4 linked regions of the Homo sapiens genome follow. The protein of the gene in region 2 purifies or fractionates together with the protein of the main gene of each other region. This does not show direct contact. Each region holds a gene or a part of one and is shown on either strand. Other genes may lie near its edges.

Region 1 (7,026 bases), on a different chromosome or scaffold from region 2:
AGTACGGGACACGTATCTTAGCTGCAGGTGTGGCTGGATGGTAGCAAAGTATAAGAGGGTTCTGCAGGCCCTTGATTGCTTTGGATATACTTTTCTTAATTGGACTAACTCTGAGTTAGTGTTGAGACAGGCCTATGATTGCAGCTGATTCACACTAAGCTCCAATTAAATAAGACTTTTTTTTTTTTTTAAACCTGTGCCATTGTAGGCTGTGTTTCTCCTATTCTGTACTTATGAATTTAGCACTTTGGGTTAAAACACAAGATTCGCACTTATCTTTATTAAATTTCACATTATTACTATTGAGCAGATCACTCTAAACTCTAAGGGTTGTTTTTTCATCCATATTCTTTTTCCTAATTTAACTTGTTTTTCTTAGTTCTAAATCAACTTGATCAAAACGCTATCAGTGGTCACCAAATCACTTGAGAAAAATGCTGAATAAGTCTAAGATGACTTCCCTACAAACTAACTCCTATACATTTAGTAGAACTCTTTGATAAGCCCCTTCAACCACCGCAAAGCATAATTCATCACATATTTACTCAATTCGACAACAGGAGACTATCAAATGCTCTGATAAAAACAAGTGAAATCCTCATGTGCTCTGTATTCATATTCTCTCCACCAAGTACTTGGTGGCCCTGCCAATCTGTACTCATGTTCTTCAGTTCTGGGTAATTTATTTGGTACTATTTCTCCAAATATTTCCTTCCCTCTATCTTCTTTACTATGAATTCCTAATGATTAGATTTTGGACCTCTTGGAATAATACCTCTAGTTTTCCATTCTCTCCCTTTTCTATTTAATTATCCTTTTCTGTTAGAGTTTTCCTCAACCACAGATTTTAATCTGTTCTGGGTTTTTTATTCCCAACTTTTGTTATCATCTTTAAAATTTTACAGGCATAACCACTACCAAGGTCAGCCAGTAGCCATCAACATCTAGGCAAGGCCCTCCAGCAGCAAAACAATTATGACTCACCGAAAGCTCAGATGATCATTAGTATTTTTAGCTAAATTATTTTATAACTATAAATTAATAAGATACGTACTTGTGCTTAGAAATGATGCTCCTGCACACTTAATAGACTACAGTATAGTGTAAAAGTTTTTATGAGCACTGGAAAACCAAAACATTCATGTGACTAGCTTTATTGCCATGGTGTGGAACCAAATTCAGATTCTCTGAGGCATGCCTATATTATTCTTTGAATTACCTTTATAACATCTGTTGTTGTTTAAGAGGTAAAATATTTTCCTCTTAAGTTAACAGTTATAGATTGGTATTTGTCTAAGTTTCCTTCTTCTTGCATTAACTGTTTCCTTCCAGTGCCTTTGTTGTTTGTTTTGGCCTAGGAATATTTGTTTTTCTATGCAAAGCACTAAAATTAGGAAGCTTTGCGTCTAATGTCAGTTGCAAGTTATGGGATTCTCAATTGTGTTACATTATAAGATGATCAGGCAAGATGTGTTATTAAGGGGTCCATGAATTTCAACGTCTATGGGTTTTTTTTTCTTCCAATGTATTGCTTAGGAGTGGGGTGGGATGCAGCGGTTCTGCAAGCCAACTAGGGAAAAGGGACAGAGGTCTTCCAACTTAGTATATCTCACCTCTCATCAGTACAGTACTTCATCAGTCTCTACTGTCAGCTAGACCTGCCTGATTTGGTTTCTCTAAGGAGTAAGTATCTACTCTTCTGCCAGGCTACTGGAAGATAGCTACTCTCAGTTGTACAAGAAGACTTGTGGAAGGGCCAGGTGCAGTGCTCATGGCTATAATCTCAGTACTTTGGGAAGCTGAGGAGGGTGGATCATTTGAGGTCACAAGTTCAAAACCAGCCTGGCCAACATGGTGAAACCCTGTCTCTACTAAAACACAAAAATTAGCTGGGCATGGTAGCACACGCCTGTAATCCCAGCTACTCGGGAGGCTGAGGCACGAGAATCGCTTGAACCTGGAAGGCAGAGGTTGCCGTGAGCCAAGATTGCGCCACCGCCCTCCAGCCTAGGTGACAGAGCGAGACTCTGCTTCAAAACAAAAAAAAAAAACAAAAAAAAAACTTATAATAAATCCTCCTGTTTTTCTGCCCCATTCTACACCCTAGTCTTCAGAGGGACCTAGTCCCTTTAGAAGGGTCTACAGCAACAATCAGCTGACTTCTTATTGGCTTTCAGAGTTCTTTGGTTTAAGTTAGCAGCACTCATCCTGCTGATTTCAAGCTTCCAAAATACTAACATCTCATGTCTGCCACTGTCTCCTCTTCCGTTCTACTTGTCTTTGTGGGTTTATGCCTTTTCTTATTCACTTATTACAATTTTGAATGGTGTTTTAGGAGGCAGCATGTATTCAATCATGTTTAACTAGAAGTTATGGAGTGTTTTTAAAGATTCTTGGCTCTTATAAGAAAATTCAAGTCAGACAACATAAGTAAGGAATTAAAAATACATGCTGCAATAAACTTTATTAAATATAAATAAATGTCAAGAGTTTGCATCTCCACAAATAGTGTTAACATTGAACACCGTTTACAGAAATGCCAAAACCCTTGCAAAGAATGATCACAAGGCTATGCACTGAAGTTAACCAGCAGTGGGAAGACAGCTATGCAGCTGCACAGGAAAGAAGTCATCTTATTAGCTGGCTATACTAACAACTGTGAAGCACTGATTCTTCTGCCACGCTTTAAAGTAAATAAATCCTTAGTACATTTATTTATATTTACAAACTATAATATTCACCAACTGCCAGTTTTTTAATCACTTCCCCTCCCCATGAATTAAAACCTGAGGTTAGAATATTAACAAGATTACCTCTGTATGGTAATTTTCTAAGACAGATGCAATATTTTCTTTTGAAGGAGATTTCAAGGCTAACAAATCTTCCTCTAACATGGCCAACTAAAGGGGAGGCAGAAAAAAAGGAAAGATCTTAGATCCAATAGAAACATAGAAAGCTTTATAAAAATCTCATCTTCTTTTTTAGAATTCTTGACTTTAAATTATGAAGCTGTCTCTTCAGGTGAATCACTGAAAGAAATTTTGACTTAAGTTGAATGAACAGGTATTCCCACACAGCAAATGTAGCCTTCAAAGGAATGGATAAAGATGGAAGAAATTAAGAAGGAGAAATAGAGACTTTTGTTTCTCAGCCTATTGAGTACTTGGAACCAAAGACCTACATATAAATTTTATTTTATTTTTAATTAATTTTAACCAAAATTGCCACAAATTATTAGTGGCTACCACAGACAATGCACAACACTATAATATAGCTTCACTTATTTATCCATCTAATCCCTCACTTAATCTACCCTACACTGAGCCAAACAGGACTTTTTACTGTTCCCAGAGCATAGCTAATGCTTTCTTGCCCCTGTGATTTCATTAAATGTTTCCTTTACCTGACAATACCTTTTCCTGATAATACTCACCTTAAGGCCGGCTGTACTGCAACCTTCATAAAAAAGCTTCTAGTCCTTTCTTACAGGTAAGCTCTTCCTCCTTTCAATTCTTTGAGTATTTTCTTTGTATTGTTTTTACACTTACCATACTTTACCTCTGCCAGATGAGAGAGATGGTTATTTATCTTTTGTACCCACTTCTAATCGCATCCCCAAAGTATATTCCTCTTTTTCATATCCTCTACAGCCCTGAGAATGTCTGTCTACTCATTGCAGATACTAGCATTGAACACATTGACAAAGAAAGGGGTTATGCATCAGCTCTCTCGTATCCTAAATTCCACTGTAATCAAGGGTGTCCCTTCCAGACAGGATAATCACATGCCCATGTTTCCTTCCTGTTATAGCTCAAGGGAAGCATGAGACTACTCAATGTGACTGAGGATGCCCACAACACAGAGAAAGATCTGAATCTTTGGCCAAACATGATAGAAAGGCCTTCATAACAGTTTACAGAGACAATCTTCAATTTTGTATGCTTCATACATTTTACAGAATCTGTAACAGTGTGAGAAACAAGACCAAAGCTCATCAACATAAAAATTTCCACAGCCAATTTATAAAGTTTATGAAGAGAATTCTATTAGTGACCAAACAGTACATTTTTATGCTATCCAGCTGTTTTACTTCAATGGCCAAAGAGGACGTGTGAGAATAAATCATCATCATTTGTAAAAAGTCCTTGGGGGACTCACATGATAGTCTAACTGTCAGTATAATCTCTGGCATCCTTACCCAAAACAGAAGAATGTTACAGATATGAGGATAAAAAGGGCCATCCTTTGTAACATACAAGAGACTCTCAATGAAAAATCCGGCAACCTCTAAAAATATAAAACTGCATTAAAATTATTAATAATAGTTAAATTTTGAGTGTTTACTATTTGTCAGTTACTGGGCTAAGCATGTAACATAAATTTTCTAATTTAATTTTTATAGCTTTCCTTGCCGTATCCTAAAACACCCTTCCCTTAAGATCTGATCAGCTATTCATCTGATGACCATGTGCTTCCTTGAAAGCTGACTTTACCCCACAGATTGAAGGACAGAGTGTGCATTACCTAGGATAGGCCAGTTGGTATATTCTACCTACTCATACGGTTCAGGAATAAGATAAGCCAGTCCAGTCAGAGTGAACCAAACCAGGTGAAGCAAAATACATCCTAAGTCTCTTGCTGGGAATTCTGAGGCAAAACTACCTTGAATTGGGTCTTCTGCCACATGTAACACAAGGAGTTTCAACTACTATGTAATAGTGTCATCTCCATTCTGCAGACGGGAAAATGGGGGGCAAAAGAGGCTAAGTTCCAATTAAGACTTAAACTCAAACTATCTATATATTCTTTTCCACTATGTTATCCTGTGCTGAGAAAATTGGCCACATTGTTTTTTTTTTAAAAAAAAAAAAGCAAAGATAAGTAACGTGTTCCTTGTAACAGATGTGTTTTAGAAAAGTCAAATGCAATTACTTTCAATGCGCTAGGGAAACTCATAACCAAAAGAAGCCTTCAAAATGTCCTCATAAAATAAAAGGCTATCTTTTTATATATAAATTTAGATTTGTACATATTAGACTTTCTTAAGGTAGGCATGATTTTTTTTTTAAGAGACTCTAATTGTTCACTTAAAAATACTCACTGAAGGTGCCAACCCTGAATCCAGGTATCATTATCTCCAGTTTGCATATGAGGAAACAGAATTAGAGAGCTTATGCACTTTCTCCAAGGTAACACAGCTATAAACTAATAGGTCCAGGATTCACACCACGATTTCACCAGAAGTCTGTGGCTCTCAACCACCCATTGTACCTTCCCATGCACTATTTTGTGTTGTTATTCCAACAATACAAAATGCAAACATCTGAAAAAGTACCTTTTCAGAATCTACAAAGTGTGTAGCAATTCCTGCTCTGTACACATCTCTTCCTTTTAGTCTGAATCCTGTTAATGCAAGGAAGTAACCAAGTTTTCCTTGGAGTCGTGGCAAGAAATAACCTCCACCCACATCAGGGAACAGTCCTGTAATTAAATGTAACAAAAAGAGATAATGGTGATTCAAATGAAAAAGATAAATATAACCTTTTTGCCGTAGATCACACAAACCATTTCTCTCTGGAGCTTGAATATACATTACAAACATTATTAAACTAAGTACTATACACTGCAATCAATATCACAAAAGACTTGCTATGAACTGTGCTAACTTGGGTATTTTTCAAAACCTTCATGTCTCATTTCTATAGAAGTCAGTAAAGTATTTGATGACACAATGTTTTGTATATTAGAAGTACTCAATGTTACCTAAATTTTCTTACCACTGATCTACTTTTGAAGAATCTCCAAAATAGGTAAAAATTTCAAAAAAATTTATTTCCAAATCAGCACAGGAAAAAAAAATACATAACCTATGGCCTATTATAGCAAAATTATTACCATTTAAATCATGTCCCAACCTTAGTCAATTATCTAATATTCAAGATGTTTAAATATTGATGCAATAATCACAAGTCCTACTAAATGAACAGGTTTATACCTAATAAAATCATTTGCATTTACCCTTTTCTTAACCATCAGTATTTAAAAATTATCTACGGGTAACAACTGAAAATAGCATATAAGGCTAGGCGCGGTGGCTCACACCTGTAATCTCAGCACTTTGGGAGGCCAAGACAGGCAGATCACCTGAGGTCAGGAGTTCAAGACCAGCCTGGCCAACACAGTGAAACCCCGTCTCTACTAAAATTCCAAAAATCAGCCGGGCATGGTGGCGCATGCCTGTAATCCCAGCTACTGGTGAGGCTGAGGCAGGAGAATCGCTTGAACCCGAGAGGCAGAGGTTGCAGTGAGCTAATGCCACTGCACTGCAGCCTGGGCAACAGAGCAAGACTCCATCTCAAGTAAAAATAATAATAATAATAAAATAAAGAAAATAGCATACATACAAGTAATTACCAGCACACTCCTTTGGGTGTTTAAGATCTTAAACAACTGTGACCCTCTAGTTTTATAATTTATGTATCTGTTCTAAAGTTTCCTTTAATTATGTTGGGATAAAAATGCAAGCACTAAAATTCTCTCCAGTTCTACTTTACAAAAAAGTTCTAGACTTAAAAGAAAAAGCATCATGCTCCTGTAAACAGAAATATCTCTTAGTATCTCAAACTAGCTAGGTCTCAAGTTAAACTCATAACCTCCCCGCGCCAGTCCCACAATCTTCCTCCAGCATCACCTACCTCAATAAAGGGTGCACGTATACAGCCTTGACACCTTCTCGCACCATCCCCTTAATCCCCATCAGTGACCACATCTTATTGATTTTCCCTCTGAACTGTTCTCCACACAATAGCCAAAGTGATCTTTTAAAAACACAAATCCTTACCAGAGTCTTGCATCCACTGCTTAAAACCCTCCCATGGCTGCCTATTTCTCCTGGATTAAAACAAACACCTTTATCAAAGTCTTCAAGGCCCCTTACCACTTTTTCCACTACATCCCTTACTACTCACTCCCAATACTCCAGCCACTCTGGTCTTCTTTCAGTTCCCTAACATTCTACACTCATTC
Region 2 (7,000 bases):
CTGTTGCCCAGGCTGGGGTGCAGTGGCGCAATCTCAACTCACTGCAACCTCCGCCTCCCGGGTTCAAGTGATTCTCCTGCCTCAGCCTCCTGAGTAGCTGGGATTATAGGCGCGCACCACCATGCCCGGCTAATTTTTGTATTTTTAGTAGAGACAGAGTTTCCCCATGTTGGCCAGGCTGGTCTCAAACTCTTGACCTCGGGTGATCCACCCGCCTTGGCCTCCCACAATGCTGGGATTACAGGTGTGAGACACCACGCCTGACCGATTTTCCATGTTTTCTGTGAGGATACAACTCAACTACAGGGTCTTTGAGACAGGGTCAGCCGAGCCTGGGAGCTGGGCGCACAGGGGCTCCTGGGGAAGGCCTTCTGGAGGAGGTGCATGCGTGGCGGTGGGCGAGCAGAGGCTACGTGCACCTGGCCGCTTGGGGTGCAGCTCAGGGAGTTGGGGGAGGTTGGAGGCAGGAACAGACTCTTATCAGTCACACGCTCCCCGATGGTCCCTGGGAGGGACGGCATGACCAGCCATCAGGAGACCTCTCCCGGGGCTGGCGCTGCCTGGCTGGGTGACCTTGACAAGCCACTGTCCTCTCCGGCCTCGGTCCTCCCATGTATAAAGTGAGGGGGATCCAGCCACTCTGTGTCCTGCCTGGGACTCCTCACTCAAGGGTGACTCTGGCGGTGGGCTCAGGGGTGGGACAGGGCCTGAACTCCAGCCCAAGGGGTCTCCATGAGCCCTGTCTTGACTGCGAGGCCCCATGAAGCTAAAGCCACACTACAGCCGCGCACACACAGCCGGTTCCCAGGATTACAGCGGAAAGACGGCCTCCTCCGGGAAGCCCTCTCTGATGGCCTTACAGGAAGGGCCTGCCTCGGCACTGCCTCCGCGGCTCTGCACACTCCAGGCCACACTCATACACGTCTACCGTGGGTTCTGGTTATCTGTTCACAGCTCACTGCAACCTTGAACTGGGCTCAAGCGATCCTCCCATCTCAGCCTCCCAAGTAGCTGGGACTAACAGTGCAGGCCCCCATGCCCGGCTAATAAGCAGTTAATAAACTGTCACTGAGATGCTCCCTCGGAGACTTGTGGCCACCGGTGTCCCTGCCTGCCAGTCTCCTGATGGCCCCCTGCCCCAGCTCACCTACAGATCCATTCCCTACACCAGTGCCCCGTGCACCCGGGAAGCAGCTCTGCCCTCAGCCCAGCCCTCCACAGCCTTCCTGGGCTCCCAGCACCCCCTGAAAGCCACCTCACCGCACTGGGGTCAAGGGCTCTGGACAAATCCCTGCAGCCGTGTGGCCCTCGCGGGCCTACACACGCACTCCCACCCCACCCCTGCGCACACCGCCCTGGCCTCTCTGTGTATCTGAGTCTCTCAGGAGGGTCCTGTCCCTGACTCCCTGCCCTCTCTGCCCAGCCCCTGCCCTCGGGCACCACTTCCTCCTTGCCCCTGCCTGGCCCTTCCTTGCCACAGCGCCTGGCCGCTTCTCTACCTGGGGGCTGTTCTGTTCCCACCTGGGGACTGCTCCGGGTCGGGGGCTGTGTGTGGCTTCGGGCTTGGGGAAGTTGCTTCTCGCCCATCTCCTGCACAGGAGTCCCGGTCCCTCTAACAAGCTGTGACCTTTGCTCCCCAGCTCCCTACAGAGCAAAGTCCAACCCCCTGCCAACCTCCCACCAGCCTTCTCCAGGGTGTCACGCCTCTGGAAGGAGAAGGCCCCTTCCCCTTTCCAGCTATGTGAGCCTGGGAAAGACCTCTGGTCTCTCTGAGACTCAGTCTTCTTGTCTGTGAAATGGGACCACACTGCAGACCTCAGTGAGCCGAGTGACGAGCCTGTGAAATAGCCAGGGGTGCCCGGTGGGCGCTCTGCCCTCAGCCTGGCAGAGATCTCCCCATTTTCAGGCCCAGCTCCCACATGCCACATCCTGGGGAAGCTCATCCCCTCCCCCGTGCCCTGGCCGATCCCACTTCTGACAGCGTCTATAGCAGCGGCACCCAGGGGGACCGGGCTGAGCCACGGCCACGTCCTGTGGAGACCAAGGTCCTGAAGGAGGCTCGGGGGCGGAAGGGCTTACCTGGTGGCAGGTGAGCACCAGGGCAGTCCACACGAAGATCCCCGAGACGCCTCGGGCCAGTGCGGAGGTGAGGAAGAGCCAGGGGGCCCCCTGGGAGCTGTTCCCCATGTGGTCCATCTGCGGCCCAGCTGGCACAGCCGGTGGGGGGCTGGGCTGCGGCCAGTTCGCTGACACCAGGGGGACGCCGGCTGTCTCCAGGATCCCTGAGACATTACTCATCTGCAGAGGGAGGGAGGACACACACCGGGAGGAGTGAGGGCAAAGGTACTGGCTCCCGGCAGCAGGAAGCAGCGGGGGAGGGAGGAGACAGTGAGACGGGAGCTGAGGCTGAGCCACCCACCAGGCCGCACCCCCCACACGGACACCAGCGCCAGGCCCGGCTCCCTCCCTGCTCCGAGCTCAGCCATCGAAGCTCACCCATCAACCACCTGCGACCTGAGGGTCCCACCTCAATTCCCCCTTGTAAAACCAGCTTCCAACTCCGAGTCTCAGGCTTGCAGGGAGCCTGCTTCTTAGGGGACAAAGACCGTCTTCCAGTGGGGCAGAAGAGGGGGAACCCCTGCCGCCCTGCCTGCCCGGGAGGGCTGGGGAGCGGGCGCAGACCAGCACTGCCTGCCCCGGCAGGAGGGGGTGTGCAGCCACCCTCATGGGAGGAGCCGGCCCTCACTGGCTCTGGGACCTGTCCACCCACCTGGGAGCCCGGCTTTGCTGGGGTTCTTGGCAGCCCTGGGTGCCTGTTCCATCTCCCACTAACCTGCTGGGGCCCTGAGTCCACCCTCTCCCACACTCGCAGCCCAGTCCAGCCTCCTCCTCTCCCTCTGGTCTGCGGTCACAGGGCCCAGCTCTACCTTTGCTGGCAGGAAGCACCTGGCCCAGTCCAGGGAGGCCTGGCCTCCAGGGAAGCCTAGCTGGTCATTCTCATGGCCACGTGGCCCCAACTGGAGGCCCCACTGTGGGTGCGGCAAGGCCAGGATCTGAAGGGCTGTGCCAGGCTGGGGCGGGGCGGCCAGTGCCTCACGTCCCCAGTGGCCCACCTGGGCCCCAGGCTGCAGGCCCGTCCCCTCCTGTCCCCTCCCACGGCTGACACCCTATCCTCCCGGTTGTTTGCTGGGTGGCAGCTGGCTCCCAGGAACCTGCTGGCCGCCTGGCGCCCTCACCTGCCTATGCCAGACGGCCAGGCAGCTGCCACCTGGTGGGGACACGTGGGAGAGGTCTGCGGCAGGCCAAGGAGGGCCGGGCTGCAGGAGGAGGGGTGGAGAGCTAATGGTACAGGGTTTCTCTGGGGGGTGACAGGAGTCCTGAAATGAGGTAGAGGCGGCAGGCACACAGCACTGTGGATATACTTACCGCCACCGAATCGTTCACTTAAACCTGGGTAAATTGATGTTATGTGAATTTCATCTGAATTAAAAAAAAAATCCACGCCCCAAGAGATGAGTTGAAAACATTTGTTTTCTGGGCCGGGCGTGGTGGCTCACGCCTGTCATCCCCACACTTTGGGAGGCCAAGGTGGGTGGATCACTTGAGGTCAGGAGTTCGAGACCAGCCTGGCCAACATGGTGAAACGCCGTCTCTACGAAATACGCAAAAATTAGCTAGGTGTGGCAGCGTGCACCTGTAATTCCAGATACTCAAGAGGCTGAGACAGGAGAATCGCTTGAACTCAGAAGGCGGAGGTTGCAGTAAGCTGAGATCACACCACTGCACTCCAGCCTGGGGACAGAGGGAGACTCTGTGTCCAAAAAAAAAAAAAAAAAAAAAAGGAAATATTTCTGGTTTTTGTGGATCAAGGCAGGAGAGGGGGAGTGACAGCCCAGTCCCTGGACCCTTTGGGGTCTGGCAAGGGGTTGCGGGGCCCTGAGGGTCCCTGTCACCCCCATGCAGAGGCCCCTGTGGAGAAAAAACTCACTCACCCCGGCTCCTGGGAGAGGGATGTGGGCCCTCAGCCCACCTCTTGTCCTGTTCTGGTTACGCTTGGGCTCATGCCGCTGGGGCCACCATTACCAAGTCCCGCTCCATGCCCGCAACGGATCCACACACTCCTTGTCCTTCATATCTCCTACCCTCCCACAGCCCTGAGCAACAGGGCTCAAGGGGTTGAGGCTGGAATGACTGGAGCCACTGTTCCCCTTTTATTTTTAATTAATTTATTTTTTGAGACGGAGCCTCGCTCTGTCGCCAGGCTGGAGTACAATGGCGCGATCTCGGCTCACTGCAACCTCCGCCTCCTGGGTTCAAGTGATTCTCCTGCCTCAGCCTCCCGAGTAGCTGGGATTACAGGCGCCCACCACCACACCTAGCTAATTTTTGTATTTTTAGTAAAGACGGGGTTTCACCACGTTGGCCAGGCTGGGCTTGAACTCCTGACCTCAGGTGATCTGCCCGCCTCAGCCTCCCAAAGTGCTGGGATTACAGGTTTGAGCCACCACGTCCGGCCTGTTCCCCTTTTAGAGATGGGAACGAGAGGCGCATCAACGCGTCCAGCATCCTTGAGGGGTCCGTGAGGGGCCCGGGCTGAGGCCCATCCTTCCCTGGGACACCCTGCCTGCTTTTCCCAACTCCTCCACTGACACTGTCCCTCCAGGGAGGCTCCCAGGTGGGGAACAAGCTCAGGAAGTCGTGCCCAGCTCTCAGGCCCGCCTTGCCTAACCTCCCCATCAGCGCCCACCCGGGCCCGGGCCCAGAGCCACAGCATGCACACCCTGGCTGGGCCCTCCTGGAGCCTGCCTGCTCCCCAGGCAGGGACCTTCTGGACCAACCGACCCTGCTCCCGGGTGACTCTGTCCTGCAGCCTCAGGCGTCACCTCTGGAGAGACCATCCCCGCTGTCCCATCACCCTCCTCACTGTGTGTGTGACTCCCTGTCCACCTGTCTGTGTTTGCTGCTGGTCCTCCCTCTGCAGGAGCTGCCAGAGCCTAGAGCTGTGCCCTGTCCATGCTCGGGGCACAGGGCTTGCGGGGTGGGGGCTGTCCTGCTGAGGCGGTGACCCTGTGGGCTAAGGTCTCCCTTTGGCCAGGCAGGGGTGCTGGAAGGCGGTCCCCAACTTCCATCCAGCTGCATTCCCACTGCAGCCACAGGTACTCCTGCCGGCCTCCCACCCGGCCTGCAGAGCCCCAGGCAGTCGGCTCAGCGCGTGTGGATGTCGCCCTCTGGCTGTGTCGGGATCACCGTCACGGACAACTATGAAGTGACGATGGCTGGGGGCCCGTTTGAAGGGTGAAGACTTTGGTGCCTGGGCATGCGCAGAGCTGGAAGGGACCGGGAATCCCCTCATCCAACTCGCTCATGCTACAGGCAGGGAAACTGAGGCCCCAGCCCCTGCTTGATTTGCGTCCAGCCCCCAGCACAGGATGAAGCCTCGGGCCCCTCCCTGGGCTGACGGTGGGAATGGCTGTGCAGACAGCAGGAGGCACTGTGGCTAGATGTCAGCAGGACCGTTTTGGCTGGAGCCAGCAGAGCCAGGCTTCTGGGAGGGCTCTGGCTTCGGGCAGGCTCAGGGCTTGGGCCCCGGACACAGACTGAGGGACCTCCAAAGCTCTGTCTTCCGCCAGAGGCAGATCCTCTGTGGAAAAAGGTGGGGTTTTCTCACAGGGCCAGCTGGGCACTGGACAGGGAGGCCTGCTGATCTCCTCAGCCCACAGCTGTCCCGGCTGAGCCAGATGCGCCAGCTCGGGAACCGTGGACCAAGTGTACTGGTCTGGGGATGTCAGGAGCAGGGCCTGGTCCCCAGGGAGGGGCAGTCGGGAGGTTGACCGCTCTGCCACCTGCTCACAGGGCTCGCCGGCTGATCGAGGCCTCACCCGGTGCTGGTGTCACAGCCTCTGCGCCCGGTCACAGGAGGCGGCAGGGCCGGCTGGGCCTGATTTTTCTGGCGGGGGCGGGACACTGACCAAGCCCATTGCAGGACAGACCTGTCTGCCCAGATCCAGGCGACGGGGCCCTCTGACCATTGTTCACTGCGTCCAGGTGCCCAGAGCTGTGGGGAGGCTGAGAAGCCGCCCAGCCAGTCCCACACCCTGGCCCTGGCACAGCCACCTCCTCCTGCTCTCATGAGAAACCCGGCTGAGGGCCCATGAGCTGTTGCCTGGTTCCAGGCCGGCTGCCCTGCTAGTGCCCACCCCGACCCCCTGCCTGCCCGTCTCTCTGCAGATGCGGACAGGCATGGTGTACCCCCCTGCCTGCCTCCTTCACTGCTGGGTGGAACTCGGGGCGCCCAGGAGCCGCCTCCTCAGGGCTGGCTCATTTGATGTCCCAGGCTGAGCTGCACACTAGGGGGATGAGGTGACCGGTGGGCACCCATCTCAGACACCCGGCTTCCCAGGTCCCGCGGCCCTCCCCTGGGGGCCCTGGCCAGCAGTTCACCAAGGCAGCAGCCCCGGGTGTGAGCAGGGGGTGACAGGGATGGGGCTCCACATCCTCCCGGCTCTGCTTCTGGGATTCCCCCGGCTCCTGTCCACGGGCACGGCCTCCTGAGAGCCGCGTGGGGCGGGCAGGCAGCATGGCCTCCTGGTGACCCACATGCCCCCTCCTCACTGGGGCCGGGGAGCAGCCCCCACAGCCAGGAGGAGCAGGCCCTGGACCACATGCCACAAGCTGGGGCCTGGCTCTGGCTGTGTGAGGTGTCTGTGACCTCAGGCAGAGCCTATGCCAGCCTGGGCCTGTCTCCACCGGCAAGAGCTATGCGGCAGGTCAGGGAGGCCGGGCCAGGGCCTCAGGTTGGCCTCCCTGTCATCTGCCCTTCTAGGGACGTAGGCTGCTGCATGGGAGAGCCAGCCTGGCCAGGCCCTGGGACTCAGCTCCACTGTCTCAGCTGACCTGGCGACCTGGCAGGTCATAGGGGGGCGCTTGCCTCAGCTTCTGACTCTCGAGCAATTCTGTTCTGCCTGAGCCCATCAGCCCCAGATCCCAGGGTGGGGCCGTC
Region 3 (7,026 bases), on a different chromosome or scaffold from region 2:
CTTTAGGAGGCCAAGGCGGGAAGATCACCTAAGGTCAGGAGTTTGAGATCAGCCTGGCCAACATGGCAAAACCCCATCTCGACCAAAAATACAAAAATAAGCTGGGCGTAGTAGTGCACATCTGTAGTCCCAGCTACTTGGAAGGCTGAGGCAGGAGAATCGCTTGAACCCGGGAGGCGGAGGTTGCAGTGAGCAGCTTGGGCAACAGAGCCAGACTCCATCTCAAAAAAATAATAAAATAAAATAAAGTAAAAAGAACATGGTCTGCAGTAGGTGTTTTTGTTTTGTTTTTGTTTGTTTGTTTTTGAAACGGAGTCTCGCTCTGTCGCCCAGGCTGAAGTGTAGTGGCGCAATCTCAACTCACTGCAAGCTCCGCCTCCCGGGCTCAAGCAATTCTCCTGCCTCAGCCTCCCTAGTAGCTGGGATTACAGTCGTGTGCCACCCTATGCCTGGCTAATTTTTGTATTTTTAGTAGAGACGGCGTTTCACCATGTTGGCCAGGCTGGTCTCAAACTCCTGACCTCAAGTGATCCACCCACCTCGGCCTCCCAAAGGGTTGGGATTACAGGCGTGAGCCACCATGCCCAGCCTGCAATAGGTATTCAAAATCCTCCCTAAGAGAAAATAATTGTGCCTCGCTATCTACCAAAGACATTGGTTAAAAAAAAGTCTCAGCAGTTACAATGTACAGTATCACCTTCCCTTCTGTAACCAAAATACTTATTAAATATATGAATGCTAGTTATCAGATTATTTTAAAAGTTTATTTTCTTTCTCTAATAATAAGGTAAAATACATTTTGGAAATCTGCATGGAATGTTCCCAACAAGTTATTTCATTTTAGCAGGGTCTATGACATACAGCTTTAGTCATTCTTTCAATTACTTGGAACCACAGAATTCTCCAAAATACAAAAATTAAATTTTCAGCTTTTATATCAAATAATGGTCTCAACCATTTAATACAAAGCAACATACTTTCTCAGGTTTCTGTTAATAAGGCAAAATAAAAGTCACTCAGAAAAAAAAGGTTAAATCATGAAGATTTCTCTTTTGTAGGATATAATTCACCCCTGTGGTTTCTCTTCTACCATTAATGTCTTATCTACTCTAATTCCTTCAAAGTTTCAAGTTCAATACAGTATAACATATGCAGAGATTTTATAGTTTTTATCATAGATTTTTTTTTTCAACATTGTTTTCAGGATGTTTTAAACACTTTCACAACTATTACCTCAGATTTGTGATTATGGCTTATAGTACGGTCTACTTTCAAAACCATGATTTTTGGATCATGGCCCATCCAAGATTTTACTCTGTTCAGAAAAAGAAAAAAAATTACATATCCAGAGTTTCACAAGCAATTCAGGGGTTTTTCCCACAGACATCAAAAACCTTGCAATAAAGGGGTGAAATCCAAAAATTACTTTCGATTTCAAAGGTTTAATATTTTTAAAAAATTGAGAAATCTATTTAAGGTGTTGAATAAACTTTTTATGACTTATCAGGCAAAATTAAAATATTTATCATGGGCAGGGCACGGTGGCTTACACCTGTAATCCCAGCATTTTGAGAGGTCAAGGCTGGACGACTGCTTGAAGCTATGAGATTGGGACTAGCCTGGAAAATATAGCGGACCCCACCTCTATAAAAAATTATTATTTTTTATTAGCTGGGCATAGTGCTGTGTGCCTGTAGTCCTAGCTACCAGAGAGGCTGAGGTGGAAAGATCCTTTTTTGTTGTTGAGACAGGGTCTCACTCTGTCACCCAGACAGGAATGTAGTACCACAATCACTGCTTACTGAAGCCTTGACCTCCTGGGTTCAAGTAACCCTCCCGCCTAAGCTTCCCAAGTAGCTGGGACTACTGGTGTGTACCACCATGCCTGGATAATTAAAAAAAAAAAAGAAGTCATAAAGACAGGTTCTTATTATATTGACCAGGTTGGTCTTGAACTCTTGACCTCAAGTGATCCTCCTGCCTTGGCCTCCTAAAGTGTTGTGATTACAGGTGTGAGCCACAGCATCCAGCCTAAGGAAGATCCCTTGAGCCTAGGAATTTGAGGCTGCAGTGAGCTATGATTGCATCACTGTACTCCAGCTTGGGCAAAAGTGAGACCATGTCTCTAAAAAATAATAATAAAATAAAATAAAGTATTTACAATGGAAGGAATCTGTGGTGTTACTTTTAGGTAATCTCAGAAGAACTTTTCAAACTCAGATGTATATATGCGGCAACCAATGTGCATATGGAGATACTGACATAGAGAGAAAAATGTTCAATCTAATATTAGCCAGTAAACATATGATGCATTAACTGGAGGAGTTAAAAGTCCATACTTGAAGGTACTGTTTAATTTATCAGGATCAATCAATCAAGAAAAACACCCACAACATAAAAACAGGGTGGTATATTTTAGTACTACTGATTTATAATAAACAGATCCTCAGATTTAGGCAGATCATTTTTAAATGCCATTAGTGATCAATGTATGCAACACAGTTGCACATAGCTATTAACAAGTTATTTTGACATGCATTACATACATGTATTCAAATTAACTATAATTTTTTGTGCTTATTTCTAGAGCAAATTAATTAAATGGCTTTCACCTTAAAGGCTTAAAATGTTTTAAAACTTCAAGTCATTAAAGATGTACTGACATTAAAACTATGTTTGAAGGCTGGGCGCAGTGGCTCATGCCTGTAATCCCAGCACTTTGGGAGGCCGAGGCGGGTGGATCACTTGAGGTCAGGAGTTCAAGACCAGCCTGGCCAACATGGTGAAACCCCATCTCTACTAAAAATACAAAAATTAGCCGGGTGTGGTGGTGTGCGCCTGTAGTCCCAGCTACTCAGAGGACTGGGGCAGGAGAATCACTTGAACCCAGGAGGCAGAGGTTGCAGTGAGCCGAGATTGCACCACTGTACTCCAGCCTGGGTGACAAAGTGAGACTCTGTCTCAATTAAAAAAAAAAAAAACTATGTTTGAAAGTATATATAATTTGTAATAATATACACGGGAAGAAATAAAAGGTTATTATGGCAATCTGAGTTTCTTAATCCAAAAATTAAAAATCAAAACACATTTCATATGTAAGAGTTAAGTGGTTTTTTTTCTTTATTCAAGTAATCATTTAGACTCTAATACATGATAATGGACAACCATGTGACAAAGTACTGTAGTGTATGGTTTGGTGTAGCCTCCTTGCCTCTAGGATGGGATTTTTTCCAGGTGATTCTTCAGGATCTGACATCGATGCCCAACACAGGCTTTCCAATGGCAATGCATGAGTTCTAGAGGTCACTGCCCCATCTTTCTTCAGGTGCTGTGTGCCATTTTCTCCCACCCATTTTATCCTCCATTACTTATAAAAACCCCACTCTAAAATTCAACCTATGTTATAAAATTAACAAAATCAGGAGTTAGTACACATTTTTCCACAATGATAAAATTAAGACTCATAATGTACTATCTTGTTTCGTCTAACTTTTGGAGGATTTATATAATCTCTAAAGAGTCAGAGTAATACATAACACAAAACATGCAAAGAACCTTATCACTGGGTGTATGTAATACGCTGGGAATTGCTAAAGTACTCAAAAGCTTAATTTTCTTGGAATAGCAACTGTCCACTGAAAACTATAGTATTCAAACAAAAGGTTATGTGTTAATACATGAAAATACAGTACCTGATTTGGCATAAATTGTGAGATCTTTTTCACTAGTAAAGTGCTTAATTAAGAAACATTTTTCCACTATTAGATTTAATTTGTCAAAGGCACAAAATATCTTTGTCTCTCTCTTTAAAGTATTAGTTTTTTAAATTATGGTACTGCCCATTTAAATTTTACTTAATCAGAAAGCTTTACTGTTTTTTTCTCTCAGCAATTAAAAAAAAACTACTTGAAGAAAAACATTTAATTTTTATTTTCAAAATGTTGCCATAAACATACATACAACACTGAATTTGATCCCCTCCATTGGCTGTCTGTGTGCCAGGAAGCACTTGTGACAGAAAACATATATAAGCTTAGGGTAAAAGTTTATAAGGAATCAAAATATCTTCCAAAAAGAGGGGGTAGGGGCAAGAGGAATCAATAAGTTTAAAAATCATAACTTTCATTTTATAAAAAATAGTTTGAATAATTTTCTTATAAATCTTTAATGCTTACAAAAGCAGGAAATACATTTAAAATAGTCTTTTTAACACAGATTCATTTGTACAATGTGGTCATAAGAAAAATAACTAAAATGACATTTCAGTAGTCTATATTCTTTTCTCAGCAAATTCCACATAAAATTTAACTAATTTACAATTCAAAATAAGATTTTAACTGCCAACAATGTCAGACTAGTTGTGGTTAGTACCTGAATATCAAGCTCTTCTCCATTTTATATATTGTACCAAAATTTTAAATACAGCTCAGCAGTGATAGGTACTAATAACAATACCTGACTACATGGTTACCACCCGTGACTACTGCATTGCAGCTTAAAACATGCTTTGGTCAGTAAATTTAAAAGATATACATCAAATAACAAGGCCAGAAAAGTTGTTTTAGAATTTCCTGACCTTAAGTAAACTTTAAATACATTGACAAGGCAAAAAAAAAATATGATCAAATATACAGAAAGGTTTCTATTTTTTCAACCATTTGGCATTTTATATTATTAATTTCGCTGTTTAAAATAATATTTTATACTCCTGTGCACTGATTATCATTGCTCTCCGAATTAAAACTAAACTACAATTACCTTGCTAGAATGTCCAGTAGCATATATATTAATTGTTCCTTTTGCATTTCCACGAAGATGATCCTTCATCCTGTAACTTTTTAAATTTTGGACCAAGAAAGAACCACCAACCAAATCCAATGAAAACACAAATAATGGACTCCACATAATAACCATCCAGGGCTGTAACACATGAGCCACCCAGTTTTTTGCAAAGCTGTAAAAATAAAACTATAATAAATACTCCACAATTTCAAAATGAAAGTATTTAGCAATTAACATGCTTCTACTTTATAAAGAATAAAAATATATTTTTCTTAAAACATTTCAGTATTTCACTGAATTCCAATGACAAAATATGTTAATGTATCTTAATCTCTCTAATGCTACTAACAGGATTAAAAACAATTTTCAGTTCTTGCTGTAAACAATACTCATTTTCTTTTTTGAGACACGGTCTCACTTGTGGCCCCGGCTGAAATGCAGTGGTGTGATAATGGCTCACTGCGGTCTCTGGCTCCTGGGCTCAAGCAATCCTCCCACCTCAGCCTTGTGAGTAGATAAGACCACAGGCGTGCACCACCATGCCCCATTAATTTCTACATTTTTTGTAGAGATGGTGCTTCACCATGTGGCCCAGGGTGGTCTTGAACTCCTGGGCTCAAGCAATCTGCCTGCTTCAGCCTCTCAAAATGCTGGAATTACGGGTGTGAGCCACCATACCCAGCCGAATATGTTTTTTTTTTTTTTTTTTTTTTAAGAGACGGAGTCTTGTTCTGTCGCCCAGGCTGGAGTACAGGGGCGCGATCTCAGCTCACTGCAACCTCCGCCTCCCAGTTCTAGCAATTCTCCTGTCTCAGCCTCCTGAGTAGTTGGGACTACAGGCACACACCACCCCGCCCGGCTAATTTTTTGTATTTTAGTAGAGATGGGGTTTCACCGTGTTGCCCAGGCTGGTGTCAAACTCCTGAGCTCAGGCAATCCACCCGCCTTAGCCTCCCAAAGTGCTAAGAATACAGGCGTGAGCCACTGCACCTGGCCCGATTATCTATTTTCACGATGCAGCTTTCACATTCGGAAATGTGAAGAAATTTCCAGTCCATCTACTCTAGAAGTAGACAAATACCACTTTGAAAGAATTTATCAACAAACCACTCACTATACAGGTTTAGTTATCACTGTTATAGGAATAGCCAATGGACATTCCCTTTTTCTATCACTACAAAACTTAAGCTATTAATTATGCATTTATATAGTGCCTGCTGTGTAGGACAGTGATCGTCAAGGTGGGGGAAAGAGAGATCGCCTCTCCTTTACTGAGAAACGCCTTTAAGGGAACTAGTCTTGCTGATTTGAATGATTATAACCCTCAGCCTTGATGTGAAAGAAAATATATATGTAGATTTCTAAACCAGAACCTATGGACAGATATGATTTTTAAAAAAGATATAGTACTTCTAGAGACAAAACAAAGATATTAATATCTTAGTATTAGCTTAATGTTATCTAAAATTAAAACATACTTACCTCAACAGCATCAGGTGTTCGACAATTCTGGTTTGATGCTCCTACACACTCTTTTACTGTGAGGGGATCTACAAGCCAAAGAGCTACTGTAGAAGGCCAGTTTCCTCCCAGATTGGACACGGTATTTAAAAGGGTCATGTATGTTCCTCCAATAAGTGGATCACTAACCTTTGCATTGAAAGCCATTATAGAAACATACATGCTGTACACTGTAACCTACGGAAAAATGTAAAACATCTTTAGTATGATTATAAAGCTTATAAAGCTACAGTCTAAATTAAGAACATCAAAGTCATAAACCTGAAATTAATTTTCATGGTATTTATTGAACTCAATTCAACAAATACTTATCAAGCACCTACTATAGGCCAGGCTTTAAGATCACAGCAATACAGGCCGGGCGCGGTGGCTCATGCCTGTAATTCCAGCACTTTGGGAGGCCAAGGCGGGCGGATCACAAGGTCAGGAGATCGAGACCATCCTGGCTAACACGGTGAAACCCTGTCTCTACTGAAAAATACAAAAAAAAAAAAAAAATAGCCGGATGTGGTGGCAGGCGCCTGTAGTCCCAGCTACTTGGGAGGCTGAGGCAGGAGAATGGCGTGAACCCGGGAGGCGGAGCTTGCAGTGAGCTGAGATCGCACCACTGCACTCCAGCCTGGGCGACAGAGGGAGACTCAGTCTCAAAAAAAATAAATAAATAAAAATAAATAAATAAAAAAAAAGATCCCAGCAATACAAAGATGTGACCTTGGTCCTTCT
Region 4 (6,922 bases), on a different chromosome or scaffold from region 2:
GGGTCTTTCTTCTTTTAAGTTTTTACATATCTGTACTGGAAAGACAAGTACAAGTGGTTTTGTTTTGTTTTGTTTTTTTTTGAGACGGAGTCTTGCTCTGTCGCCCAGGCTGGAGTGCAGTGGCGCTATCTTGGCTCACTGCAAGCTCTGCCTCCTGGGTTCACGCCATTCTCCTGCCTCAGCCTCCCGAGTAGCTGGGACTACAGGCACCTGCCACCATGCCCGGCAACTTTTTTGTATTTTTAGTGGAGACAGGGTTTCACTGTGTTAGCCAGGATGGTCTCGATCTCCTGACCTCATGATCCGCCTGCTTCAGCCTCCCAAAGTGCTGGGATTACAGGCGTGAGCCACCGCGCCTGGCCAGACAAGTGTTTTTTCTATACTTTCACTCACAACACTCAATACTTCCAGAACACTTCGGACAAAATGTATGGGATTTTCCCCACACCAACCAATTCTCTGATAGCAGCCAGGTGTCTTACAATTAAACTCAATTCTGATACCACCTATTTGGATATGGCCTCAGATCCCAAAGGTTAAGGGCTCAGTCCCATAATACTGTCCCTACCCCGACTTTAGATGCCAATCACAAGTTCAAGTTGTCACCTGCACTTCTGACTGTCTATAAATCAAAGGCTACCACGATCCCCCCGCCCAGTTTGATGATTTGCTAGTGTCTCACAGATATGGGGAAAGAGTTTAGTTACCATTGCTGATTTATTACAAATACATTTTAAAGGATACAAATAAATAGCCAGATAAAGAAGTAATCTGGAAGGGTCCCAAGTGCAGGGCTGTCCTCATGGAGTTGGGGTAACTCTCCTGGCATGTGGATGTTGTCGGCAACCCAGAAAATCTCCAAACCCTCAACTTCAGGGATCTTTATGGAGACCCCACCACGTAGGCATGATGGATTATTAACTCCATGTCCAATTCCTCTTCTCCTCCCTGAAGGATGGGGGTGAGGTGGGGCTGAAAGTTCCAGGCTTCTAATCTTGGCTTGGTGTTTCTGGTGACCAGGCCCCATCCAGGAGCCCACCAATAATTGCCTTATTAGAACAAAAGATGATCCCGTCACCCAGGAAATTACAAGGAATTTAGGTGCTCTGCGTTAGGAACCAGGGCAGATTTCACAATATTGATCCGAAATGTAAGCTCCACCAGGGCTAGACTCTGCCTTGTTCACTGCTATATCCCTGGGGCCTACAACAATGTATATATGGTAACCACTTATTAAGCATTTGTTGTGTGAATAGTTATAATAAAAATCCATCCTGCCTAGGCATTCTGGCTTTTTTGAATCGCTCTTCCTTCTTTTCTACCCTCTTCCGACACCTGTTTCTTGTCAAGCCTTTCATTAAGCTACTCCTTTTCAGCCCTGGGCACAAGAAAACAAAACTGAGCTAAACACTTTTTTGGTGAAAGCCAAAAAACCACTCATGAATGCTAATTATCCAGCATTCGCCTGTTTACATGTACGTATGATCAGAGGGTACACTTCATCCTCTTGGGTATTCATTCATTCCCATATTCACACATACTTATTAGGTGTCTATTATGTGGCTGACACATGGTAGGGGTTACAGAGGTAAGACACACAAGGTTCCTGTCTACGTGGGAAAGAGACAATAAACAACACAGTGGTAGGCACTGTTAAGAAGAGAAGAGAGAATATTGGAAGTGAGGCACATTTCAGTTACAGTGGACAGATGACATTTGAGTAAAAAACTGAATGAAGTAAAGAAACTCATCATGTGACAATCTCAGTGAAGAGTATTTCAGATTGATGAACTCACACTCCAGGTTGAAGAACAAGAGGCCTGTTTAGCTAGAACAGTATGAAAGAGGTGGAGAGGGGCAGAAGATGAGGTCAGAAACATAGGCAAGGTCTGCTCAAGGGTCTGACGAGATTTTATTCTTAATGTGATGGGAAGCCACTGGAATGCTTCAAATACAATAGTGACTTAAGGGGTTTACCTTTTAAACAAGCTCTCCAGCTCCTGAATCAGAATACATGAAGTCTCCACGTGTGCTTTACAAATATTTTTGTAAAGAAGTCTCTACTAGGTGCTTTACAAATATTTTATCATTAAAAAGTAATTACTTGTGCTAACTTTGAAATCCCAAATAAGTGGATGGGAATCCTGGCTTCACTACCTACCAGCTGTGTGATCTTAGTCACCTTAATATCCCTGGACTCAATGTCCCCGTCAGTAGCAAAGAAATTATTATAATTTCCTCGATTACTTGTGAGATCAGGGATTATTCACTCATTTGTTTATTCGAAATATTTAGTGTGCCAGGAACCATGCTAGTTGCAGAGAAAAAAAGGGTACAGCCTCTGCTATCAGGAACTTACCGTCTAGCGGGGAAGACTTGATACAAATCAACCACGTACAGCCGTGTGCAGGCTAAGACAGTTTATAAAAGGATGTGGTAAGGGAACAGTTTGGGAAGGCTTCTCTGAGCAAATGAAGTTAGTGTATACAAAACTCAGTATACACTAGGTATTTGTATTATTGCTACTAGTCGCAGGTAGGGTTCAAATCCTGGCTCTGCCATTTACTAGCTTTGCAAATTTCTCCTTTTGAGCCTCAACTTCCATGTCTGAAAATGAGGACAACAGTATGTAGCTATAGGGCTATTGTGATAATTACATGAGATACCCCCTGTTAAGATTACTGTCCAGTGAATGGCAATAGTCAGCACCCATTGAATGTCCACTCTTAATACTGTTGTTAATTTTGAGTCCTCTGAATGGAATAAAAGACCGCAGCCAGGTCTGGAACTCCGCTGGCTCCCCCTTCTTACTTCCTCTCGTTTTCTGGGGTCGTCAAATTCCCACCACCCCCGGTCGCCAAGAGCCGGCCCACATCACTGACCTTCTCAACCTTCTTCGGCCCCTTCACCAGTTCATGCCTCTTGGGGATTGTTCCCCCGTCGCAACCCATCGCAGGACGGGAGTCAGAGCCAGCAGCAAACCCCCAAAGCTGTCACTTCCGGGATTTCCGGCGAAATCCGCAGCCACTTCCGGCGCACCGCCGTGACGCAGCACGCTGGTCGTGGCGTAGCGGGGCGGGGCGGGGCGGCACGCTAGGCGCGGCGTAGCGGGGCAGGGCGAGGCCGTTACCAAGTGCCGGTTGTCATGGAGAGCGTCGCTTGGAGGCTGGGCGTGGGCGGGTTTCCTCGTTCCCGTGAGACCCTGGGTTTCTGCTGCACAATCGGAATCACTCGCCCACGCTCCGGGAGGGCAGCGAGGGCGTGGGCGGCCCGTGCGCATCCACCGCTCTTTGACCCTATCCCACGCCAGCTTGTGTGGCTGCGGAGCGGGCACATCCCTGGACTGAGAGCGCCTTGAGGAAAAGGGCCGCCCTCCTGTTTCTGCGATTAAGGATGCCTATGAACGGAATCTGCTGTATCAATGGACATTTTTGTGTTTAAAAGGAGAACGCATCTTTCTTGAGCGCCAACTGTGACTCAAGCACTCACAACAAATCTTGTGAAGTGATGTTACAACAGATTCTAGGAAGTAAGACCCTCCCTTAAGGCCTGGAACTTTCTGGTGTTGCCATGCATATTGTAGATGGCATGTGTGTGAAATTTTGCATACAGTTTGTGCGTGTGTGTATTTCATTCACAGTTTCCTGAAGCCCAGGCTAAAAAAATTTTATTAACAATCAAGTATCATTAATAGACGATATAATAGTTCTTATAAAATATACACTGATGTTGCCATGCCCGTTCCAAGAGTCAGGCTGTATTTTATCTATAAGAACACAAATCCCTTGCTAAAAATTCATGATTGTCTGTCTGCTCTTAGGCGATTGTCTATCTCTCTGTTTGTTCCTTTAATTATTATAAATATTATGGGAAAGTGCCTATAATCCCAGCACTTTGGGAGGCCGAGACGGGAGGAGCACCTGAGCCCAGGAGTTCCAGGTCAGCCTGGACAACATGGTGAGACACCATCTTGAAAGAAAAAGAAAAATTAGCCAGGCGTTGTGGTAAGCTTTTGTAGTCCTAGCGGCTCCGGAGGCTGAGGGGGTAGGAAGGATTGCCTGAGCCCAGGAATTCAAGGTTGCAGTGAGCTTATGATTATGCCACTGCACTCCAGCCTAGGCAACAGAGCAAGACTCTGTCATTAATATGTATGTATGTATGTATGTATGTATTTGTACATATATATGATGGGAAAATTTCTCCATTGCCAAGAAGGCAGATCTTTATGATTGGATATTACCCTATTGACCTACGTGAAACATAAAAACGCTGAAAATATTTTTTACTTGGGAAGAGTTGCCCAGAAAATACGTGGATGTGGAAACTTCAAGGGCTATATGTAAGCTTGGGGTACTTGTTACTGTGATTAATGAGAATTTTAAAAAATAATCCCTTTAATTAGTTGGTCTCTGATTGATTTATGATTTATTTCTATGCTAACCACAATAACTGTAAGCTCTATGAGGGTAGGGACTTCATTTTGTTTTGTTTTGTTTTAGACAGAGTCTCGATCTGTTGCCCAGACTGGAGTGCAGTGATGTGATCTCGGCTCACTGCAACCTCAACCTCCCAGGATCAAAGCGATTCTCCTGCTTCAGCCTCCCCAGTCGCTGAGATTACAGGCGCCCGCCACCATGCTGGGCTAATTTTTGTATTTTTAGTAGAGACGGGGCTTCACCGTGATGGCCAGGCTGGTCTCAAACTCCTGATCTCAGGTGATCCACCTGCCTCGGCCTCCCAAAGTGCTGGGATTACAGCCGTGAGCCACCAAGCCCGGCCAGGACTTTTATTCCACATTGTATCATCAGTGCCTAGAAGAGTCTTTGGCACACTCAATATATGAGTACATTTCCTCAGTAAACCAAAAGAAAGTACAGATTCATTGAGAAAGGGGTGAAAAGCCTAGTTTTGGCAGATACTAAAACTGGTTAGTACTATTAGAATTCCATTTACTGGTGAGGAAACAGAAGCGTGGAAAGATCAAATGACTCCTTCAAGGTCACATAGGCAGTGAGAGACCCGGGAATGAGTGCTAGGATTAGTTCTTTCTCACAGCAAAGGAAAGAAAGTCAAATACAGAAGAGCAGAAACACCAGCATCTTTAGAAAGACTCAAACCAGTGTTCTTTTCTCATTTGGGGAAGAAAAAACAAAAATAGCGGCTCTTTATTAAGCCATGACCATGCGTGCACTGAGAGATTTGTAGGCATTTTTTCACTTTGGGCTCACAATAACCTTAAGAGTTAGAAGGTATAATCCCTCTTGTTTTACAAATGAAAACCCCAAGACTCAGATGTGCAAGTTGTCTTTGTTCAGAGTCTCATAGCTGCTGAGTAAAAGGAGTATAAGATGAGGGGCTGTCTCCGATGAGGCCCGTCTGACTTAACTGCTTCCCCAAATGCTGCTGATAAAACCCAGCAGTACCGGCTGTGCTGGTGTTCTAGCTCAGGCAGCTGGACTTTTTTCTCTTCCTCATTGGTTTCCTCTTTTAGAATATTGGTCTCTAGGCTACTCTGTGCCTCAGACTATACGCAGCTAGAACTTTTGTGAGGTTTATTATCATTGGTAGCAAATATGTGTTGAGAGCTGGCTGCCATGTCAGGTGCTGTGTTCAGCGCTTTATTGGACTTGAGCCGTTTTATTCTCCCGGCTCTACTGGGAAGCAGATGTCATCATTGTCTGCTTCTTCTTCCACTGCCTTGTTGAATGAACTAATAAAGGTTATTCCCTTACAAGCATCTTCGGAGACAACTTTGTCCTAGCCAAGCCATGGATTTTTGGGGAAGCAGAGGAATGAAATGATAAAAAGGAAAATCATTACCCTCTAGTAAAACCAGTATTTCTTAACCTTTTGGGAGTCATTGGACCTGTTTGAGAATTTGATGAAAACTTTGAACTAAATCTCCAGAAAAGTATTGATTAGCACATAACGACATTTCACATAGCGTATACATGTTTGTATTTTACTCACAGCCTTCTGAACCTCAGGCTAAGAACCAGTACTTTAAATGCTGTTATAGTAAGTCCTTACAGTAGGTCTCAAATATTTCAGACTTCTTTTTTTTATATAATTTTTTTATTTTTGAGATGGAGCCTCACCCTGTTGCCCAGGCTAGAGTGCAGTGGTGCAATCTGGGCTCACTGCAACCTCCATCTCCCATGTTCAAGCGATTCTCCTGCCTCAGCCTCCTGAGTAGCTGCAATTACAGGCACATGCCACCATGCCCGGCTAAGTTTTTGTATTTTTAATAGAGATGGGGTTTCACCATGTTGGTCAGGCTGGTCTCGAACTCCTCACCTCATGGTCCGCCCTCCTTGGCCTCCCAAAGTGGTGGGATTACAGGCGCACACCACCACGCCCAGGTAATTTTTTGTATTTTTAGTAGAGACGGCGTTTCACCATGTTGGCCAGGCTGGTCTCGAACTCCTGACCTTGTGATCCACCCGCCTTGGCCTCCCAAAGTGCTGGGATTTCAGGCGTGAGCCACTGCCCCCGGCCCATTTCAGACTTCTGAGCCATGGCAGGTTTGATTTCCTGGTAGCTCTGCTCATATGCTCTTCCGTAGCTGCAGCTTACCATAACTCATTTTAAGAGTTGGCATTAAACATTTTTTAAACTGTCTGCTATGGTTTGAGTGTGTCCCCCAAATTTCATGTGTTGGAAATCTAATCCCAATGCAACAGTGTTGGGAGCTGGGGCCTAATAAGAGGTGATTAGGTCATGAGGGCTCTGCTCTCATGACTGGATTCATGTTGTTATCTTGGGAGTGAGTTAGTGATCGAGACAGTGGACTTGTTATAACATTGAGTTCGGCCCTCTCTTGCTCTCTTGTCCTTCCACCTTCCACCTTGGGATGATGCAGCACAAAAGCCCTTGCCAGATGCAGGCCCCTTGACCTTGGAGTTCCCAGCCTCCAGAACTG

Evidence for each region.
Region 1: the proteins of TMEM184A (region 2) and HIBCH purify together in Homo sapiens (affinity purification with mass spectrometry; 2 studies listed by BioGRID and IntAct, with this or other methods). This does not show direct contact.
Region 3: the proteins of TMEM184A (region 2) and SLC33A1 purify together in Homo sapiens (co-immunoprecipitation; 2 studies listed by BioGRID and IntAct, with this or other methods). This does not show direct contact.
Region 4: the proteins of TMEM184A (region 2) and RTF2 purify together in Homo sapiens (affinity purification with mass spectrometry; 2 studies listed by BioGRID and IntAct, with this or other methods). This does not show direct contact.

What each region holds. Positions count from the first base shown.
Region 1 is NC_000002.12:190,246,827-190,253,852, forward strand, and holds part of HIBCH (3-hydroxyisobutyryl-CoA hydrolase, mitochondrial isoform 1 precursor), read right to left. Parts: intron 5,482-7,026; coding exon 5,336-5,481; intron 2,901-5,335; coding exon 2,814-2,900; intron 1-2,813. UniProt on the Homo sapiens protein: Hydrolyzes 3-hydroxyisobutyryl-CoA (HIBYL-CoA), a saline catabolite. Has high activity toward isobutyryl-CoA. Could be an isobutyryl-CoA dehydrogenase that functions in valine catabolism. Also hydrolyzes 3-hydroxypropanoyl-CoA.
Region 2 is NC_000007.14:1,553,187-1,560,186, forward strand, and holds the start of TMEM184A (transmembrane protein 184A), read right to left. Parts: upstream 3,020-7,000; 5' UTR 2,928-3,019; intron 2,299-2,927; coding exon 2,080-2,298; intron 1-2,079. UniProt on the Homo sapiens protein: Acts as a heparin receptor in vascular cells. May be involved in vesicle transport in exocrine cells and Sertoli cells.
Region 3 is NC_000003.12:155,823,424-155,830,449, forward strand, and holds part of SLC33A1 (acetyl-coenzyme A transporter 1), read right to left. Parts: intron 6,481-7,026; coding exon 6,265-6,480; intron 4,955-6,264; coding exon 4,787-4,954; 3' UTR 1-4,786. UniProt on the Homo sapiens protein: Acetyl-CoA transporter that mediates active acetyl-CoA import through the endoplasmic reticulum (ER) membrane into the ER lumen where specific ER-based acetyl-CoA:lysine acetyltransferases are responsible for the acetylation of ER-based protein substrates, such as BACE1.
Region 4 is NC_000020.11:56,464,727-56,471,648, reverse strand, and holds the start of RTF2 (replication termination factor 2), read right to left. Parts: upstream 3,023-6,922; 5' UTR 2,952-3,022; coding exon 2,883-2,951; intron 1,024-2,882; exon of another isoform or gene 708-1,023; intron 36-707; exon of another isoform or gene 1-35. UniProt on the Homo sapiens protein: Replication termination factor which is a component of the elongating replisome. Required for ATR pathway signaling upon DNA damage and has a positive activity during DNA replication.